Linked DNA regions of Homo sapiens: region 2 is linked to region 1. The links come from fine-mapping of genetic effects on gene expression. A gene starts in region 1. The other region holds a variant in brackets. All regions are shown on one strand. Distances are between the middles of the regions. Region 1 holds the start of GLP1R (glucagon like peptide 1 receptor). Region 2 holds the start of MIR9983 (microRNA 9983).

Region 1 (10,304 bases):
GGGGAATAACAGTGGTGTTAACATTGCCATTTACTAGGACTTATTTGTGCCAGGTTCTGGGCAAGTGCTGCTTCTGATAGTCAGACTATCCTGCAAGGTGATAAATGTGGGATGGGGAGTTAGTGTGTGGGTCTGTGGGGGTTTGCATCCAGGCTCTCCTGGGCTGTCTCAATACCTAAGTGCACTGGGGATCAGCATCCTCATTTGTAAAATTGGGGTAAAAAATGGGCCGGGCGCGGTGGCTCACACCTGTAATTCCAGGTGTGGGAGGCCAAGGCAGGCAGATCATGAGGTCAGGAGTTCGAGACCAGCTCAGCCAACATGATGAAACCCCATCTCTACTAAAAATACAAAAATTAGTTGGGCGTGGTGACGGGAGCCTGTAATCCCAGCTACTTGGGAGGCTGAGGCAGGAGAATCACTTGAACCTGGGAGGCGGAGGTTGCAGTGAGCCAAGATCATGCCATTGTACTTTAGCCTGGGTGACAAGAGCAAGACTCCATCTAAAAAAAAAAAAAATCCCACTCTACAACTCAGGGTTGCTCCCAGGGCAGGGTCTGAGAAGAGAAGCAGGAGGTGGAGGGGTAGAGCCCTTACCTAAAGAGGCATCCTCTCGTGATACCCCCCTTTGCCCCCAGGACTTGCTGGCAGCCAGGTTCTCCTGGCAGAAAGTGGATTCCTGGCCCACTGCTGAGGTCTCTGCCTTCTCTCAGCAGCAGATCTTCAGACTGTCTGGCAAGGGCCAGCCTGAGGGCGATGGTGAGCATTAGATGAAATAACACATATACAGCTCCTAAAACAGTGCCTGGCTCAAGGCAAATGCTCGGTAAATATTGGTTCTTATTACTGGACCCATTTTATACCAAGGTTTAGTGCTATTAAGGATACAGAGTAAGTGACTGAGATGGATTTGACTGTCAGACTCTAAAAATCTGTGTTTAGGTATGTGTATGCATGTGTGTTTATATCAGGTTGAAAAAAATGCTGGCTCTTTCCTTATTTCATCACTCAGAAGATGAATGTGGTCTTGAACTTTGGGAAGTAAATGAGTTTCTTAGGGACATGGAGCTTGGAAAGAAACCTGAACTATGCGTGCAAGAGATACCTGTCCTGGCCGGGCTCAGTGACTCATGCCTGTAATCCCAGTACTTTGGGAGGCTGAGGTGGGTGGATCACTTGAGGCGAGGAGTTTGAGATCAGCCTGGCCAACATGGTGAAACCCTGTCTCTACTAAAAATACAAACATTAGCTGGGCATGGTGGCATAAGCTTGTAATCCTAGCTGCTTGGGAAGCTGAGGCACGAGAATCACTTGAACCCGGGAGGCGGACGTTGCAAGGAGCTGAAATTGCGCCACTGCACTCCAGACTGGGTGACAGACCGAGACTCTGTCTCAAAAAAAAAATTAAAAAAAAGAAGAGACACCTGTCTTTTCTAGCAATTCCCTTTCCTTCCCTCTCCTCCTCTCCACTCTACAACCTCCCTCTCTTTTCCTGCCTCTCTCTCCCTCCTGCCTCCTCTCAAGTGAAAGATCTGTCCTGGGCCGGGCGCGGTGGCTCACGCCTGTAATCCCAGCACTTTGGGAGGCTGAGGCGGGAGGATCACAAGGTCAGGAGTTCGAGACCAGCCAGGCCAACATGGCAAAATCCCATCTCTACTAAAAATACAAAAATTAGCTGGGCGTGGTGGCAGGTGCCTGTAATCCCAGCTACTGGGGAGGCTGAGGCAGGAGAATCACTTGAACCCAGGAGGCGAGGTTGCAGTGTCGCCACTGCACTCCAGCCCTGGTGACAATATGAGACTCTGTCTCAAAAAAAAAAAAAAAAAATCTGTCCTGTCCACTGACCTGGTCTTCCTGCTAGGGACAAGGTTTTCCTGTTGAAGACAAAAGAGGGCCGGGTGGCCTGCTCTCAGGTCTGCCTCCTTGGCGAATGGGCCTTACAGCACCTTTTCCTCAGGAGCACACATCAGTTGCTCCCATTCCTATTTCTGAAGACAATCTCAATACCACATTTTCTTAGTGGAAGCTGAGGGCACCCCACGCTAGGGTCACTGGAGAAGCCTTGGGCCTAAGGGTAAGGAGCAGGACCCGGAGCTCTGGGCTGTAGAGCGAGGTGCTCCCGGACAGGCTGGCTGAGCTGCAGCCTGCATCCTCTGTGCTGCCACAAATTCAGCTGCCTATTGGGGGTGTCGGCACCAGCTCTCAGGGCAGGTGGACCTGGGATGAATGCCCTGTTTGCTTTTATGGGCAACTCACTTTTCATACCTGAGCCTCGGTCTCCTCATCCATAAAATTGGCACAATAACACTTGTGCATAATACTGGATGAGATCAGGGTACACCAAGCATTCAGCAGCTCCTGGCCCAATAAGTAGTAGCTATTGTCTTTGTTTTCAAGGGTTTTTGCTTGTTTGTTTGTTTGAGATGGAGTCTTGCTCTGTCACCCAGGCTGGAGAGCAGTGGCATGATCTCTGCTCCCTGCAACCTCCGTCTCCTGGGTTCAAGCGATTCTCCTGTCTCAGCCTCCCGAGTAGCTGGGATTACAGGTGTTAACAGTTTACCAAACAGTATGCCATCCATTCAAATCTCTGCTCTTAGGGAGCTCATCCTTTCCTCTGCTCTAAGGAGCCTGAGTGAGAGGCCCTGGTAACAGCAAGGGGAAAGAAGGAAACTGTATTCCCGAGTCCATACTCTGTCCTAGCATCACAGCAAACTCAGAGGTTTTTGGACCCCCAGATGTTAAGAGGAGGGACAGGCCCTGAGCTTCCTAAATACCCTCATATGCCCACTGTCTTCAGCTGGGCTCTCCCAGAAGCAGATCCTGAGATAAGGATTTAAGGACAAATTATTTATTTATTTTTCATTTATTTTATTTTTTGAGACGGAGTTTCACTCTTGTTGCCCAGGCTGGAGTGCAATGGCATGATCTTGGCTCACTGCAACCTCCACCTCCCAGGTTCAAGCGATTCTCCTGCCTCAGCCTCCCGAGTAGCTGGGATTACAGGCATGGACCACCACGCCCGGCTAATTTTGTATTTTTAGTAGAGATGGGGTTTCTCCATGTTGGTCAGGCTGGTCTCGAACTCCCAACTTCAGGTGATCCGCCCACCTTGGCCTCCCAAAGTGCTGAGATTACAGACGGTGAGCCACCATGCCCAGCCAAATTGTTTATGTGAGGTGTGACCCCGGAAGCACTGGTACCCTACTGTGGGAAAGTGGGACAAGTGAGGAAATGAAGCCAACACAGGGTGCATTACTGAGCAGGTAACTGCTGTGGGAAGCTGGGCTCCATCGCACAGGGGACCTCTGGGAGACTGTGGTACACACCTCTGGATGGGGTATTTATCCATCCACTCCTGTCCATCCATGGTTGACAGCTGCTCTTAGGGGTACCTACCCTGCACTGGCTGAATGCAAAAATGTTCTCCAAGTCAGAGAAAGCCCCCTGGCAGAGAAAACATGGCCTTATAAGTACTGGGGGCATTTGCTTACCATAATAGTGCTTACACAATTATAAATGACTCCAATAATTATTTAATGTTTCCCTCCTGTATTAGAATATAATCTCTCTGAAGATAGGGACAGCATCACCAATTGTATCCCCAGGACCTAGAATGGTGTCTGGCACATGGTAGGTTTTCGATAGATACTTGCTGAATCAATGTAATCTGGAGGCTGACAAATTCATGATAAAGACCCCAGTTCTGTCTGAATAGCTTCTCTATCTCTTCCTTTCTCCTCTCTCCACCCTAAACTTGATATAGCAGTGCCTAAAACTCACTTCCAGTATCTTTTTTAAAATTTGCCTTCTTCTAGAGTATAAAAGCCCAGTATTTAACCTTGCCCATGGTTGCCTGGAATAGAGGGTGCTTTTCCCACCCTCCTTTGCAGCTAGCAGTGCCTATGTGACTAAGTTCTGAGCAAGAGGTGTGGAATTGATGGCTGCCACTTTCAAGATGTGTCTTTATGGGTGGAGGTGCACCCATCTCCTTCCCATTCCTCCTTCCTGCTGGTTGGAATTTGGATATCGTGGCTGGAGCAGCCACCTTGGATCATGAGGTGGAAATCTTGGACCAAAGGATGGTGGAAGCTAGAAGACCCAGGCACCCTGATGATCAGGGAGCAGCCACTCCAACCTTGGGCTGAACCTCTGGCCTTGCTTTACATGAGAGAGCCCTTGGTTATGCCATTGTTGTTTGGGGTGGGATTTTCTGTCACTCCCAGGTGAACAACCTAATCCTAAGTGATACCTAGAAGGTCCCTGCTAGACTGACCTCTTGGGAGGGGAGGGAATAAACGAGTCTCAGGTGGTGGAACCAGAGCTTGCTGGAGAGGAGAGTCTCTCCTGGTGAATGGAAGCCAGGGGCCCCTCCCACTGGCTGTCTCCTTCCCTGGGCTCAGGCAGGTCCAGCCTTCCTCAGGACTTTGAGAAGTTCAGTTCTCTCCCCAGGAGTAGCTACTTTCACAAACTTCCTGTCCCTTTAGTCGACATGCCCCACGGCAGGTCCGAGGCTGGGCTCTGCCACAACTCATCTTTCCTAAGAGTGGCATCAAGGTTCTTTGGTGGGGGATCCTCTTTTCCCATCCCCACTTCTCAAGAGCATTAGGGAAGATACAGTCAGTGCCCTCTTAGCATTCTCTTTCCACTTGTTGGGTGTAAGAAGGGAACCTGAGGGCCCTGCAGTGTTTAGGGGTGGGAGTGGAAACAGACAGGAAAGATCCAGAGTCCCCAAGAAGCGAAGCAGGGAGAGAGATAAAGAAGGCAGGAACAACCATGGACACACATTATCACACATACACAGGTTACAAGAGCAGGAGGCTGGAGCTGCAAGAGGTGGCAGGGAAGCTTCCAGAAAGGCAGACCCCAGCCTCATCCCTCCCTGCCCTGCAATGCTGAAGTTTCCAGGTAGAGGGGAACCTCTAGACCCTTGCGACTGTCAGAGTTCTGTGGATCCATTTGTCAGTCTCCCCACCCCCAACCTTGACTATCCTGGGCCTGCCTTCAGGACAGAACATGGGAATGAGAAGAGGACCTGGGAAGGGGTAATCCTGGGAAAAAAAAGTTCTTATTAGTCACCCCTGGCTCTGAGGATACTTTCCAGGAGTGGCCTGCCAAGCCGTGTGACCTTGGACAAGTCCCGTCCATTCCTCAGGCCTCAGTTTCCTTTGAGGGACCCTGAATGGGCGGGGGTTGCTGTAGCTTTCCTCAGCTGGGAGACCCGGGAGGAGGTCCGGGGTGCCAGGGTGGGAGGAGGGCCTGGCTTGTCGCTGAAAGCCGGCCAGGCGCACTGTCGGCGCTCAGAGCTGGTGGCCGCCTCCTGCGCTTCCTGATTCCCAGCCGCGCTCGCTCGGAGAGCAGTGCCCGCTATCTCCTGGCCCGGGACCGGCAGAGGGGTGCGGCGGGGCGGGCCCAGGGGTCTCTGGCGGCCGGAAGAACCGGGACCCTGCCAGGCCCCTCCCGCGGGCAGGGCGGCCCCTCGCCGGCTCCTCCCCCACCGCCCGCCACCAGCCCGGGATCAGTCTCCGCACGCGGTTCCGCAGGTGGCAGCGATGGCCCAGTCCTGAACTCCCCGCCATGGCCGGCGCCCCCGGCCCGCTGCGCCTTGCGCTGCTGCTGCTCGGGATGGTGGGCAGGGCCGGCCCCCGCCCCCAGGTGAGATCCAGGGACCCCGACGACACCGGGGGAGGCGGGTGGCTCTGCGGGCTGCAGGCGCAGTGTCCTGGTGGAGGGCCCCGGGACTTGAACGAAACTCCGAGACCGCTGGCGGGGGCATCCGAAAGCCTCGGGGGGAGTAGGGACTGGAGACTTGGTGCCCCTGGGCTGGAAGGCCCAGGTGAGGGCTTGGACTACAGAGGATTCCCCCCAACCCCAGCGAGGCGCCCTCTTCCTCGCCACCCGGGTCCCTCTGCCCGGGCACCCGCTGCCCCGCGGCCGCCCTGCGCTGACTTCTGCTCCGCTTCTCCTTTGTCCCCAGCACTTTCCCAACTCCTTCTAAACCGTGTCAGCGGCCCTGGCACAGCCCGGCATCCTCCCGGACTCCCTCTGCCCCACAGTCTGACCCAGACCCCTCTCCCGCAGTGCCTCCCCAGACAATCCACCTGCTCAAAGACCCTGAGAAGACCCTGGGAGGAGCTGAGAGGGCCAGGGTGCGGAGACCCGGCTCCTCTCCCTTTCTCATCAGCCCCCAGCACAGCCTTTGATTCATGGCTCCTGGGGCCCTGCGGTGGCAGCTTGTCCTTCCCAGTGACCTCCCAGATGGAACCTACCCCCCGTCCCCTACCAGCCTCTGTAGCAAACAGGCAGAAGGCTCAGTGCCCCCCTGGAAGCAGCCAGGCGCCCCCACTCACCCACTCTGCTGACCTCCCATTCTCATCCTGCACTGACAGCAGGCCCCAAGAGAAGGCATACTGGGACACGCAAGAACACCTGGGCTCCTTGGTGCCACCAGAGAGCAGGCCACAGGTGGACCACCGCAGCCCCTCTCTCTTGCCCTTGTTGCTTTTCCTGCCCTGGGATCCTGGGCTAGGGACAGTGGTCAGCTGCTTTTGAAGAGGGGAGCTGTCCAAAGATGCTGGGACTTGCTTGAGCAGAGAGGAGACATAGACTTGGGTGGCCTGTCCTGGGTCAGGAAACAGGTTCTTCCTATCACCTCCCACTGCTACCCCCAGACCTAAAGAACTGAGATCTGTGGGGAGTGGACCTGAACGAACCTTGAAGTTTGTCCCAGAACCATTGCCTTGGTGAGGGCAGACTCCACCTCGGCGGAAACCCCAGATGTGGACAGACATACCTCTCAGCTAAGATGCCAGCACATTTTTCAGCCCCCAGATTATTTTCCAGACGCATCCTCTCCCTGCCCCTGTTCCCCAGCCCAGCTGCTGTCCTGAGCCCCAGGAGACAACCTCCCCCTTCCAAGACACCTTCCTCACAGCGCCCCCAGCCAGGCCTTGGTTTTCCTGGTGCGGCTGGGATCTTTCAGGGGCCAGGGCTGCAGACCCAAGATGTGGTTCTTGCCCATCGTTCCCTCCTCTTACGGACTGGGTTGGGATAGGGGTGGAGGCTCTGCTTCCTGGTTCCATCCTCCTCCAGGCCAGGTTTACAGGTCTGGTTTGAATGAAGGGAAGAAAGCAAAGGGAAGAGGAAAGTTTCTGTGAGCTGTCTTCCCAGAGGCCTTATTCCCAGAAGTGTCAGGCTCCTGAACCCACACTTTCCTCTGATCCGATTTTACTCCTTAGCCCCAGGCCTAAGGCAAAAGCTGGGCATCCTGGGGGCATAACAGGATTGGGGTGGTAGAGAAGGATAGGAGGGGACAGGTCCTAGCAGGGAGGGGAGCTTTGAGGGGGTGCTCTTGTCATGGGAAACTGAGCTGCCACAGAGATCTGAGTCACAGGAGGTGTTAAGGATAGATTGCAACAATTATGACACAACATCATGCGTGCTTATAAGACTAAAAAATAGTGTATTTTGCATTTTGTTTTCTGTCTATGAAGTCAAAAGGGTTAGAGTTACTCCCCTCATGTTGCTGATGGGGGAATGAAAGCTCAGAAAAAGAGGGTCCCCTGTATAAAGTAGCCCAGCAGTTCAGGAGCAGGGAAGAGAAAGGGGTGAAGGGCTGGGCTCTTGACCTAACACCTCCTACTCAGACGGGACTGAAGGGAGACCTCTGAGAGTGAGCTGCTCACTGTCAGGTCTCGTGAGGCTGGAAACAGCATCCCTGCAGGTAGGGGGATGGCTGAGTTGACTTCTGAAGAAGGTGCCCTAGGCTACTCTTTCATTGCTGCTGGGAAGGCTCATTCCCCTACCCTGGTCCTTACCTCTCCAATACCCTGGTGAGGGAGCGGGCCTACTGAGGAGACAGGCAAGCCTTTGACACTCAAAGTTAAAATCAGACACAACTGGATTCAAATATAGGGTCTGCTATTAGCTGGTGATCTGGAGTTGGACACTTGGTTATCCCCAATACATGTCCTTATCTGTAAATAAGGATCATAAGCTCTATCACATAGGGTTATGGAGGGGATTGAGACACTGGCCCCTGAAATGGCAACTTTAGTCACTTTAGTCAAATGGCAGAACTGACCCATTTGTCCTTGGGGATCCAGAAGTGTTTTCCAGGGCTGCAGGATAGTATGAGAGAGGGGCTGTTGGAGACCCTGGGTCTCTGTACTCTAGTGAATGGCAGGTGGAGTCCAGGGCTGAGCCTTGATCAGTGCGGACATTGTTCTAAGCTGGGTTTCCTCCTGGACAGGACCCAGGCTGGGGGCTGGGGCAGGAGCAACCAAGAAACCACATCCTGCCCTCGAATGCCTTGCACCAAGGCAAAACAGGCTTCCTCAGCTGCAGCCTGCCCCTAGGAAAATTCCTATGTGTGTGTGGTGGTGGTGGTGGTTGGAGGAGGGGACAGAGATACAGACAGGTAGTCTGAGACAGACCAGGGGGAGAAGGGAGTAGGCTATATGAACCCCCAGTTCCCAGGTATGTGTGAGTGACCCTGTGTGTAACAGTCTGTGTGGGAATGAGTCCCTGTGTGTGCAACATCTCAGCATGCAACTGTACATCTGACAGTGTCTATGTTTTTGTGACCCTGCATATGATACTGTGTCTGTGGGAGGGTCTGTGTGTGTGTGTGGGGGGGGGGGCATCTTGGTGTGTGAATGGGTGTCAACTAGTGTGTGTCTATATGTGCAGGAGAGATAGTGTGCATGTGAGAGTGTCTGTGTGTTCCTCTGTGTGTGTGTGTTGGGGACAGTGTCTCAGCATGCGACTGTGTACCTGGCAGTCTGTGAGTGATTGTGTGTGGTGGGAGAGAGTCTGTGTCAGTGTCTCAGTATTGGGAATGTGCTTGGGGGCGTGTGTGATGATGCGTGTGACCGTGTGTCCACGTGGGGGTTTTTGTGACTGTAAGAACATGTGTGTAGTATTCCTTTTCCTGTCCTTTCGTTCAGATATCTAAAGCCCTTAGGGAAAAAAAATGGATTGTAAGCTCTGAGCTTTTGAAAAAAAAGAAAGAAAGAAAGAAAAACAAGGGGCGGTCAAAGAGACAGGGGTCTGTTGATGGAAGGGGTGATTTGACTTCTGGGAGGTGACACAGAGGAAGGAGGTTGGGGTCCTGGGAGGAGATGCCAGGGAACCTGAAGGGCTGGACTTAGTTGGGGGACTCCAGAAATTTGAGTTGGAATCCCTCCTTCCTCCTTCTGAGAGGCCTTCCTGCATGTCTCCCACCTCTGTGCCACCTCCTTCCCGTCACCAAAATGGTCCCCAGAGAAAGAAAGAATCTGATACACTTATTCGCACTGAGAAATAGGAGTGCCTTTCAGATTGGCAGCCAGTGTTTGGAGAGGGAGCCCCTTCCTGGGGTGTTGGAAAGCCCACCACCCCGGGGGCTTCCACTCCACCTGCTTCCTTCTCTGCTGTCCTTCCTTCCAACGCTGCCTGCTTGTACAGGGCTTGAGAAGTCACAAAGATTTTCACCTGCTTTATCTTGTTGGATCTGTGCAGTTTGAGAAGAATGATATGCCCATTTTATGGACGGCAGAACTGGCAACTGATGAGGAAACTGAGGTCCTAAAAGATAAATCGTGTCCCACAGTCCTGCATTAACAGAGCTGGGATTTAGACCAAGAACTTATAAATCGCTGTCCAGTGCTCCTTCCTGTAGACCACACCACTCCCTCCTGGTGTCCTCTTTCCTGTCTCCTGCTTCCTCCAAAAACTCCTGAATCTGAGGGATGCCCCTTCCTTCTTGTAACCTCCAACCCAGGTGTCGTCTCCACGTGCCTTCATCCACCTCAGAGAGATCCCATGAAGCCTGTCAAGTCTTGATTCTAGAAACTGCCATCCTGCCCTTCCCATGGCCCTTTAGACCCCCTCTGACCGCTGCTTTGCTCTCCTGGTCAGCTCTGCTGCCTTGTGAGGGACAGGGACATCTGGATTGCATCCTTCCCGCTACCCAGAACCCACAGCCCCACCTTGTCAGGCTTGCAGCAGGGACTTATGTTGTGGGAGGATGAAATGGAGGAGTGGGGGACACTGGTGGGCAGGGCCTTGCCCCTCCTCACAGGGCATGGGGTCCAAAGCTTCCTCCCTGCTTCACTTTGCCATTGGCTGTGGTTACTGCTGGAAGATCTCACAAATTAAGCAGAATGATTGGTCATTGGACATGAACATATATTCATTTCCTCTTTCTGGGAATATGTTGATCCTAGAAGTGAGGAAGGGGTGGGGCCCCAGTCCCCAGGAAGCCTGGTCACTCCCTCCCACTCTGCCCTTTCCACTAAACAGTAGAAATCATGGGGATTGCTGCC
Region 2 (10,304 bases), 23 kb after region 1:
AGCTTTTCAGCCCCAGTGGAAAAGTTCCTCCTTAGATCTAACCTAGATGAGACGTTCCTTCCAAACTAGGAGCTGGGAACAGAGTACCAGGTTCTTCCCACTCCTCTGCACTTGGAGAAGGGGGGCCAGGGGGACTGGGTTCAAAGAGGGAAGGGATTCTGAGAGAATGAGACCTCAGGACACCAGGCAGCAAGAGCAGGAGAGGTGGCATTCCCTCTCCTACCTTCAAAGCACCTGGCACAGTCCTGGGCACACGGTGCTCAATAAATGCATTCACTCAATGAATATTCTCCTCTTTTATTATGAATTATTCCAGTGATTCAAAAATGCAATGACTGATACTATGATCACTCATGCACACACCATCCAGCCTAAGAAATAACATGTCCCATAGTTACACTTCTCTGGGTAACCCTCTCTGATCCCATCCCTCTCCCTGCCCTACACCCATCAGAGGTAAGCCCTGAATGTGCCTCTTTTAATTCCGACACATTTCCTTGTACTTTTACCACATTTGTGAGTAGCTATAGAAATATATAGCAAGGTTCTGTGTATTTTTAATAGTGTATTGAACATATTTGTCTTAGTCTTTTCCTGCTGCTATAGCAAAATACCTTAGACTGGGTAATTTCTAAATAACAGAAATATATTCCTCACAATTCTGAAGGCTGTGAAGTCCAAGATCAAGGCACCAGCAGATTCCATGTCTAGTAAGTTCTTGTCCTCTCTTTCCAAGATGGCACCTTCTCACTGTGTCCTCACATGGCAGAGGGGCAAATGGGTGAAAAGCTCTCACAAACACCCTCAGGTCTCTTATAAGGTACTAATCCCATTCGTGAGGGCAGAGCCTTCATCAACCTTATCACCTAAAGGCTTCACCTTTTCATACTATTGCCTTGGGGACTAAGTTTCAACATGAATTTTGGAGTGACACAACATTCAAACCATAGCATTCTGCCCCTGGCCCCCCCAAATTCCTGTCCTCCTCACATACAAAATACATTCATTTAATCCCAATGGCTCCAAAGTCTTAATTCATCCCAGCATTAACTTTAAAGTCTAAGTCCAAAGTCTCATCTAAATATTATTTAAATCAGGTATGTGTGAGACTCAAGGGATGATTCCTCCTGAAGGAAATTTCTCTCTAGCTGTGAACTTATGAAATCACTGAAGTTATGTGCTTCCAAAATGAAATGTTGTGGCAGGCATTCTCATTTCATAGGACAGACATTCCCATTTCAAAAGGGAGCAATAGGTCTGCATGTGGTGGCTCATGCCTATAATCCTAGCTAATTGAGAGGCGAAAGTGGGAAGCCTGCTTGAGGCCAGAGATTGGAGACCAGCCTGACCGATGTAAGAGACCATTAAATAAATACAATTGTTTATTTTTTTATCTGGAAAAAAATAAAGAATTAAAATTCAAATAAAAAAAGAGAGAAATAGGAAGGAAGAAAGGGGTAACTGGTCCCAAGTAAATCCAGACTTAATGGGACAAACAACATTAAATCTTAAAGCTTGAGAATAATCTTCTTTGACTCAGTGTCCTGCCTTCCTGATATGGAGGTGGGAGTTGGGTCCCCAAGTCTCCCCGAAGCCCCACTCGCACAGCTTTGCTGGGTTCAGCTCATGTGGCAGCTCTCACAGGCTGGAGTTGTGTGCTGGTGGCTCTACCAGTCTGGGGTCTTGGAGGAGAATCTTGCCCCCCATGACTCTGCTAGTCATTGCCCTAGTCAGGACTCTCTGTAGCGGCCCCACACCTGTGCCTTAACTACTATAGATTTATTAGAAACCTCCACTCTGCCTGGGCCCTGAGGCTCTCCAGGATATCCTTTGAAATCTAGGTCTTCCTGGATTTCAAAGAAGTAACTATGTTCCCTACAGCTCGTGCACTCTGTGTGTCTGTAGAGTTAGCACCACGTGAACACTGCCGAGGTTTACTGCTACGTCCTCCAGAGGGACGGCCTGAGTTATACCTGGGCCCACTTGAGCCGCAGCTAGGGTAGCCAAGGAGCACTGCACCCAAGTGTAGGGAGCAGAGACAGGAGGTGGCCCTGGGCAGTGACTTCCAATGCCTCACAGTGTCCTGGGCTCCTCCCCCAGAACTGTTCTGCTCTCAAGACCCTGACATCTGGACCTGAAAGATCTCTGAAGTGCATTCAGGGTCATTCTTCCATTTTCTACCCATACTAATTTTATTAAATGTTCACTTGGCCACACCCTTGGTATTGTCTCCTGAACATGCTTTTGCATTCTTTACAATATGGTCAGACTGAAAATTTTCCAAATCTTTAAGTTCTCCTTCTCTTTTGATTATAAATTTCATCTTTCATTTCTCTCTTCTCATATTTTGCTATAAGCAGTCAAGGGCAGCCATGCTGTACCCTCAATACTTTGCTTAGAGATTTCTTCCACCAAATATTCTATTTCATTGCTCATAAGTCTTTGCTCCCATGAAACACTTGGACATAGACACAATTCAGCCAAGTTATTTGCCACTTTGTAACAAAAAGATGGCATTTCCTCTGGTCTCCAATGCCATGCTCCTCATTTCTATCTCAGACCTCATCAGAATGGCCTTTACTGTTCATATTTCTACCATTATTATGTTCACAACCACTTAGATAATCTCTGTGAAGATTGAAATTTTTGGCCGGGCGCAGTGGCTCACGCCTGTAATCCCAGCACTTTGGGAGGCCGAGGCAGGTGGATCATGCGGTCAGGAGATCGAGACCATCCTGGCTAGCATGGTGAAACCCCGTCTCTACTAAAAATACAAAAAATTAGCTGGGTGCGGTGGCGGGCGCCTGTAGTCCCAGCTACTCGGGAGGCTGAGGCAGGAGAATGGCGTGAACCTGGGAGGCGGAGTGAGCAGAGCAGTGAGCAGAGATCGTGCCACTGCACTCCAGCCTGGGCGACAGAGTGAGACTCTGTCTCAAAAAAAAAAAAAAAGACTGAAATTTTCTACATAGCTCTCATCTTCTTCTGAGCTCTCACCAGAATCACCTTGTATGGCCCATTTGTGGAAATATAGACTTTTTTCTATCCCACCACCCAGTTCCCAAGCTACTGCTACATTTTTAGGTATTTGTTACATGACTCCCCACTCTCGGTACCAATTTCTATCTTAGTCTGTGCCTGCTGTTATAACAAAATACCTTAGACTGGGTAATTTTTGAAAAATAGAAATTTATTTCTCATAATTTAGAGGGTGGGAAGCCCAAGATCAAGGCACCAGTGGGTTTGATGTCTAGTAAGGGCTTGCTCTCTGCTTCTGAGATGGTGTCTTCTCACTGTGTCCTCACATGATGGGGAAGGAGTGAACACTATGCCCTCACATCACAGAAGGCAAAAGGGCAAAAAGGGCTCACAAACTCACTTAGGCCTCTTTTATAAGGACGCTAATCCCATTCTTGAGAGCAGAGCCCTCATGATCTAATCATCTTCTGGAGGCTTCACCTCTTAATACTATCATTGCATTAAGGATTAAGTTTTATCATGAATTTTGGAGGAACACAACATTCAAATCATAGAAATATTTTTCTGTAATTTTTTGGTCCAACATTATGTTTGTGTGAGATTCATTCACATTGACACGAGCAGTCCTGTTTTGTGGATTTTTAACCACCATTCCATATTCCGTTGTATAATACAGCACAGTTTATCTGTCAACCTTTTAATGGACATTTGAGTTGTTCTCTTTTTTTCTTTCTGAATTACAAATGTTGGGTGCAATGTACATTCTTACTTGTGCATTTCTCTGGGGCATATAACTAGGAGTAGAATTGCCAGGTCTGACTACCACCTGCTTTCGCAATTTTACTATGTTAAGTTGTTCTTCACAGTGGTCACACCAGTTTACCCTCTCATCAGTAATAAAAGAGAGCTTCCTTTGTCTAGCCTTCTCACCAATATTTAGTGTCTTCAGACTTAATTGTTGCTAACCTGAAGTATGTGAAATTGCCTTATGATTTTAATTTGCATATTCCAGATTCCCAAAGAGATCAAGCATTTTTTTTCATGATTTTTTCTGTGAGTTGCTTTTTCATATCCTTTGCTTACTTTTTCATTGGCTTATTTGGGTTTTTCTTTTCTATTTTACATATTCATTATATATTCTGGATACTTATCCAGGATTTACCCTCTCTTTAGTCTGTGGCTTATTTTTTCACTCATTTTATGGTTTTTTATGCACAGAAGTTCTTCATTTTAATGGAATAAAGTTTATCAATTTAGTATTGATAAATAAAATTTATCAATAAAGATTAAGCAGTTGA[T/TA]AACAGTTAATTTTATTGATTGCTTTAAAATTATTCATTTTTTCCAAAGAACAAATTCTGGACAGTCTTATTAAGAAATCTTTCCTTGGCTGGGTGCGGTGGCTCACGCCAGTAATCCCAGCACTTTGGGAGGCTGAGGTGGGTGGATCACAAGGTCAGGAGATCGAGACCATCCTGGCTAACACAGTGGAACCCCATCTCTACTAAAAATACAAAAAATTAGGTGAGCATGGTGGCACCCGCCTGTAATCCCAGCTACTCAGGAGGCTGAGGCGGGAGAATCACTTGAACCCAGGAGGTGGAGGCTGCAGTGAGCCGAGATCACGTCACTGCACTCCAGCTTGGGCGACAGAGCAAGATTCCATCTCAAAAAAAAAAAAAAAAAAAAAAGAAAGAAAGAAAGAAAAAGAAATCTTTCCTTACCCTAGTGTCATAAAGATGGCCGTCTATATTTTCTGTAAGTTTCAGAGTTTTGCTCTTCCTTGTGGTTCTTTGATCTGCTTGGAATTCATATTGCGTATGATATAAATAAAGGATTTCATTTTTTTTTCTGTATGTGGAATTAGCTGCCTGAGTACCATTTATTGATAGCCTTTCCTTCCCCCTTGGTTTGCAATGACTGCCATTCCATGCAGCAAGGCTCCACGTATGTATGGGTTGGTTTCAGTCACCTACAGTTTTTTTCTGTTTATCTTTCCCTGTCCGGATACCATGGTGCCTTAGCTACTGTAGATTTACTAGAAATCATATAGCAAAATCTCCTCCTCTGTGATTCTTTAGGAGTGTCTGGAATATTCTTAGCCCTGGCTCTTCTTTATAAGTTTTTAAAGTTCTACTTTAAAAATAAGGTAGAATTTTTATGAATACGGAGAGACTTGACTCCTTTAAGGTAGCGAGTCTTTCTATCTGTGAATGTGATGTATCTATCTCCCACTAGTTTAAGTCTTCGCTAATGATTTTAAGCAAGATTTATAAAATTCTCCATCGAGATCTTACCTATCTTCTGTTAGACTCATTTCAAGCTAGTTAATTAAAAATATTGCAAAAGAATTATTTCTAAACATTTACTTTTAAATTTTTTTAACGCAGGCATATACAAACATACTTATCAGCAACCTTGCTAAACTGTCTTATTAGTTCTAATAATTTGTCCATAGATTTCTTGAATTTTCTATGAAGATAATCTACCATCTACAAATAATAACTATTTTGTTTACTTCTGATTCTTGTACATTTTTCCCTTGCCTTATTATAGTGGGCAGGATCTGTAGTTACAATGTTGACTAGAAGCAGTGATAACAGACATCCTTATTTTGTTCCTGATTTCAAAGGAAATGCTCCCACAGTTTCTCAGTTAAGATTGATATTTGCCCCTGGTTAGGTAAATAGCCTTCATTAGGTTAAGAAATGCCCCTGTACTTTCAATTTGCTACACATTTTCACATGAAAGGATATTAAAACTCTATCCAATAGTTTCTGAATTCCTACCAAGTGCCTAGTCCTGCTCTGCCTCTGTGAGGCATTTAGGATGTGGGCCCTGTCAACAAGAAGCAGTGTTCCCACTGGGGAAACTGATCCTCATGCATAAATCTCTTTGGTTATGCAAGACTTTGTGTCAAAGAAGATGCTGCAGAGAGAAGGATAGAATGTGGATGGGAGGAGGGGGCAGTGACTACATAGCGGAAGCCTTCATGGAGAGGCAGGATTTGAGTTGGACAGAAGGATTTTCACGATGATGAGGAAGAAGGGTATTCATAGAAGAAGACACACGCACAGTCCCAGGGCTGGAAACATGCCTAATGTGTGTGTTAGCTTGAGAGCCTGGGGTTGTAGAGCAGAACTGTTGGCTGCCTTGCCAGGGAAAGGCCCTGCTTTCTCCCTCAGACACCTGCACTGCACCAGGAACTACATCCACCTGAACCTGTTTGCATCCTTCATCCTGCGAGCATTGTCCGTCTTCATCAAGGACGCAGCCCTGAAGTGGATGTATAGCACAGCCGCCCAGCAGCACCAGTGGGATGGGCTCCTCTCCTACCAGGTGTGTGGTGCATCCAGGACCGCCTCAGGAGGGATGGGCGGTTGGAGGAGGCCTGCCTCTGCCACCCTAGACAGGCCTGGGACAGGAGAAGACAAGAGCCGAACAGTCCTGGCCCTTCGGGAGCCCCCAGTCTGATGGGAGAGGCAGTTCGCCTTGGGACCCTCCAGTCTGCTGAGAGAGGCAGTCTACCTTAGGGAGCTCCCAATCTAAGGGAGGAGACACTGCCCTAGGGAATTCTCAGTCTGACACAAAAGAGTAGTCTTTGGAGACACACTTGAGTTTGAATGTCAGCTCTGTCACTTACTATCTGTACACTTTTAGGCAAGTCACTTACTTCTCTGAGGCTGAGAAATAGGTGAGAAGTCACTTACTTCTCACCTGCAGGGGGATACATTACTTTCTTCCAATCAGGATAGTGAGGATTCAATGAGCTAAAGCAGATAAAGTCCTTAGCACTAGCCCTAGCCAGAGATGTGAGCTCTCTCCTCCTGCATTAACCATGGCAGGATAGTGGCTGGAGCAGGACGGGGAGTGGTATCAAGAGAGGCAGAGGGCAGAGCTGTTGTCCCCATGACACCCTTCCTCTACCCCCAGGACTCTCTGAGCTGCCGCCTGGTGTTTCTGCTCATGCAGTACTGTGTGGCGGCCAATTACTACTGGCTCTTGGTGGAGGGCGTGTACCTGTACACACTGCTGGCCTTCTCGGTCTTATCTGAGCAATGGATCTTCAGGCTCTACGTGAGCATAGGCTGGGGTAAGAACCGCCATCACCCACCCTGGACCTGTGGCACGGGGGTGGGAGACCTTGACCCCTCTTCTAACATGGTACTTGGAACGCACTGCTGAGCAAGGGGCAAGGCCCACTGGGTAACCCTCTTCCTGGGCACAGGACCTTCTGCCCCGGTGCTGTTAAGATGCCGTAGGGGGTTATGGTCCTCCCCTCCTCTGCATAACTCTCCTCCCTTAATGGAAGCCTCCACCGCATGTGGCCAAACACCACCCTCTACCACTATCATGCACACCACTGGAGGTCATGGCACTGTTCTCTTAAGACCACATGGGGACATAAGTTCACACCCAGTCCCGGGCAGCCCGAGGGCCTGAGGGAAATGGTGAGTCCTGGGCCTCAAGGTGGGGAGGGGATCAAGAGGGTAGGGGGCTGGCTGGGGGGAGCCTGCTGGTGCTCTGTCACATGACGATGAAGAGGAGGGCTCAGAGGAGAGCCAAGTACAGTGGGGCAGGGGGGCCAGAGGCCAGCCAAGGAAAGGGTGGACGGCGGATGTGCCTGGAGCCCAGCTGGAAATGTTCTAGCCAAAAAAGTTTGCCAAGAACCATTGTGTCTTTTTTTTTGCTGGAACATTTCTGGTTGTGCTTCTGCCTCTCACCACGTGGGATTGTAATGAGGGGCAGCATTGGGGTTGGGAAGGGGGCTGGGATCCCCTTCACCCCTGGGAAAACATGCAACAGGCCTTTCTGGAGGGACCCACGGTACCCAGAGAATAGGCCCTGCCCTCTGTCCTCCCTAATCTGCCATTGAATCCATGAGTTTTCCTGTTCCACACCATCCCCCGCCCTGCTTGCCACTCCTTCATTCACTCCTCCTTCCTTCATGCGCCCACCTCACGCTGCTCTGACCACGGCTGCCCCTGCCACGGACCTCCGGGGACTTTCCAGCTCAGTCACATCCAGACTCCTCTTCCCTGACAATGGTCCTGTCCCTGAGCCTTTGCAAGGCTGTTCTCCATGCAGGAATGTTCAGGGAGCATCCTTCCCACACCAGGGTGTCCGCTGCCTCTTCAGGAAGCTGCCTCAGGCCACCAGTCCTCGTGGTTCTGTGCTCTCTGCCCTCTCAAGCTCTCCATCCCCTGTCCTTGCACTTCATTTATTTTTACTGGTGTTCCTCAGCCATTTTTCTCTATACAGCTCCCCCCACCCCCCAGGAGAAGAGTAGCCTGAGAGATTTTAATGTGACCAGTGTCTTGAGGACACCAAGGCCCAGAGCTGGCAGGGCCTTACAGGCAGAGCAGGCCCTGGAACCCAGGCCTCCTGACTCCCAGGCTCTGGGCCTGCGGCCATCATGCCCTGTTCTCTTGCCTGGGCTGCATCCCTTCAGTCCCCTGCAGCACCCCTGAGCAGGCTCAGGCCTCTGCACAGGTGGGCAGGTAGGCCTGGCTCCTGCTCACAGATCCCTGCTCCTCACCTGCCTCCTCCACTCCCAGAACCCAGTCCCTTCCTTGGCCTTTTCTCCCCGAGGCTTCTTCCTCCTGCTAGAGCAGGAGGAGGGAGGCCATCGAGGGCAGCTCAGGGAAGGCTGTCTTCAGGGTGGGGGACGGTGTCTGTCCATTCTAGGAAATAGCATCAGCGCTGTTAGTGCCTGTCACCATGGCGACCCGAGGGCAGGAACAATCAAGGGACGTGTGTGATGTGTGCAGAGGAGCGGGGGTGGCTGGAGTTTGGTGGGGACACACTGCCCTAGAGGTCTCTGAGTGGGAGATGGGGGAGGGAGTGCCAAGTCCTTTTCCTACCACCTCACACCCTAGCTCAGGGCTCGGGGTCTGTGGGAGCACAAGGGCAAGACCCGGAGGACACCCTGCTCTAATCAGAACACCTTTTTCTTGAGGATTGGGGTGGGGGAGACGGAGAGAGATTCACAGGTTGCTAGGAGCTCAGACGTGATGCCAGGAGGCCTTGCCCAAGCTGGGATACTTGGGAAACAACTTTCAGCTTCATGTGCAAGTGGAAGAATTAAAATTAGGACTCTGACACAGTTGGAGAGGTCCCCCAAAGGGCATGGCAGCTTCTGCTGCAGTCCCCAGGCAGTTGGGGGCCTGTAGAAACCCACATGGAGGCTGTGCAAGAGGGAGGCAAATGATGGTTGAGGGAATCATTACTTCCTGGAGCCAGTTGTGTGTGTCTTAATTTGAGCTTTTTTCTCCAACCTGTCTTGCTCGTTTTCTAAATGGGAGAAAGATGAAGCCAGCAGGGAGTGCGTAATGTTTGCATGCAGCAGGGCTTTCGTGACTGTGTTTTTTGAAAAGGCCTTGTTAAGGAAATGCTGACGATGAGTGAAACTTGCCAGGTCTGGCTGATAACATGGGTGAGTGCCCTGATCCTGGAAGGAGGTCTCAGAGAGAAGGGACAGCAGGGGGCGAGGGATACCCAGAAGGAAGCTTCTGCATGTGTACGTGGTTCAGGAAATCGGCATGCTCTTGCCCAGACAATGTTCCTTCCCTTATTGGTGTGTTGACTCACCCATCATTCGTTCCATTCTCACTGGGCATCTTCTATGTGGCAGGGCCTGTACCATGTGCTGGGGCCTTTGGAGACCATCCCATTCCTTGTCCAGTCTCATAAAGGCCTGTTACTAAAGCACCGTAGATGCTGAGAGGTCCGATTTGTGTAGAAATCAATGGGCCAGGAGAGAGAGAGCTGATGAAGAATGCTGGTCCGCTGGGGGCTCCTTTGCCTCCTCCATCTCTCCCTGCATCATCAGGCACAGTAGATCTGGGCACACAACCTGCTTAGTAGCTGCTGTTGAGTGGACACTGATGTGCTAAAGACATAGACAATGGTGACAGGAAAGGCTATGAAGTGGTTCTGTCCTGGAAATGTGCTCCAGGCAGAGATTCCCAAAGTCATACGTGCACACTCATGGTCCACCCACCACACCCTCACACACACATGTCTACATACCTTAATATGCACATGCTTACCTATCTCAGACACATCTCCAACACTGAGGGAGGGGCCAACGGAGACGAGCATGGAGACAGCCAGTGCAGAAGGCCATTGAGGGCGGTGGGAGTGGGTATGGGATTGCAGCCCTGAATTCGAGCCCCACCTGTGCCCTTCTGAGTCCCTGATCCATCTCCTCATATGTCATGTGAGGAAGGAAAATCCAATTTTAAATCAACCAACACAGACCCTGAGCTCTCAGGGTGATCTGGGCATTGAGGCTCTGAAGGTGAGTGAGGCCCAGGCTCTACCCTCAA

The links. PIP is the estimated chance that this variant, and not a neighbour inherited with it, causes the effect.
Region 2: its variant is the best candidate, but not a certain one, in a credible set for the expression of GLP1R in whole blood (TOPMed, PIP 0.58).

The regions. Positions count from the first base shown.
Region 1 is chr6:39,043,267-39,053,570 of GRCh38, forward strand. It overlaps GLP1R (glucagon like peptide 1 receptor), which reads left to right and starts at 5,515. Exons shown (of 13, transcript NM_002062.5): 1 at 5,515-5,652. The coding sequence starts at 5,575. RefSeq lists an enhancer at 6,199-6,699.
Region 2 is chr6:39,066,704-39,077,007 of GRCh38, forward strand. It overlaps GLP1R (glucagon like peptide 1 receptor), which reads left to right. Exons shown (of 13, transcript NM_002062.5): 6 at 6,159-6,312; 7 at 6,907-7,066. MIR9983 (microRNA 9983) reads left to right here and starts at 7,611; the gene lies at 7,611-7,678. RefSeq lists an enhancer at 7,024-7,881. The variant T/TA (reference allele first, on the strand shown) is at 4,275.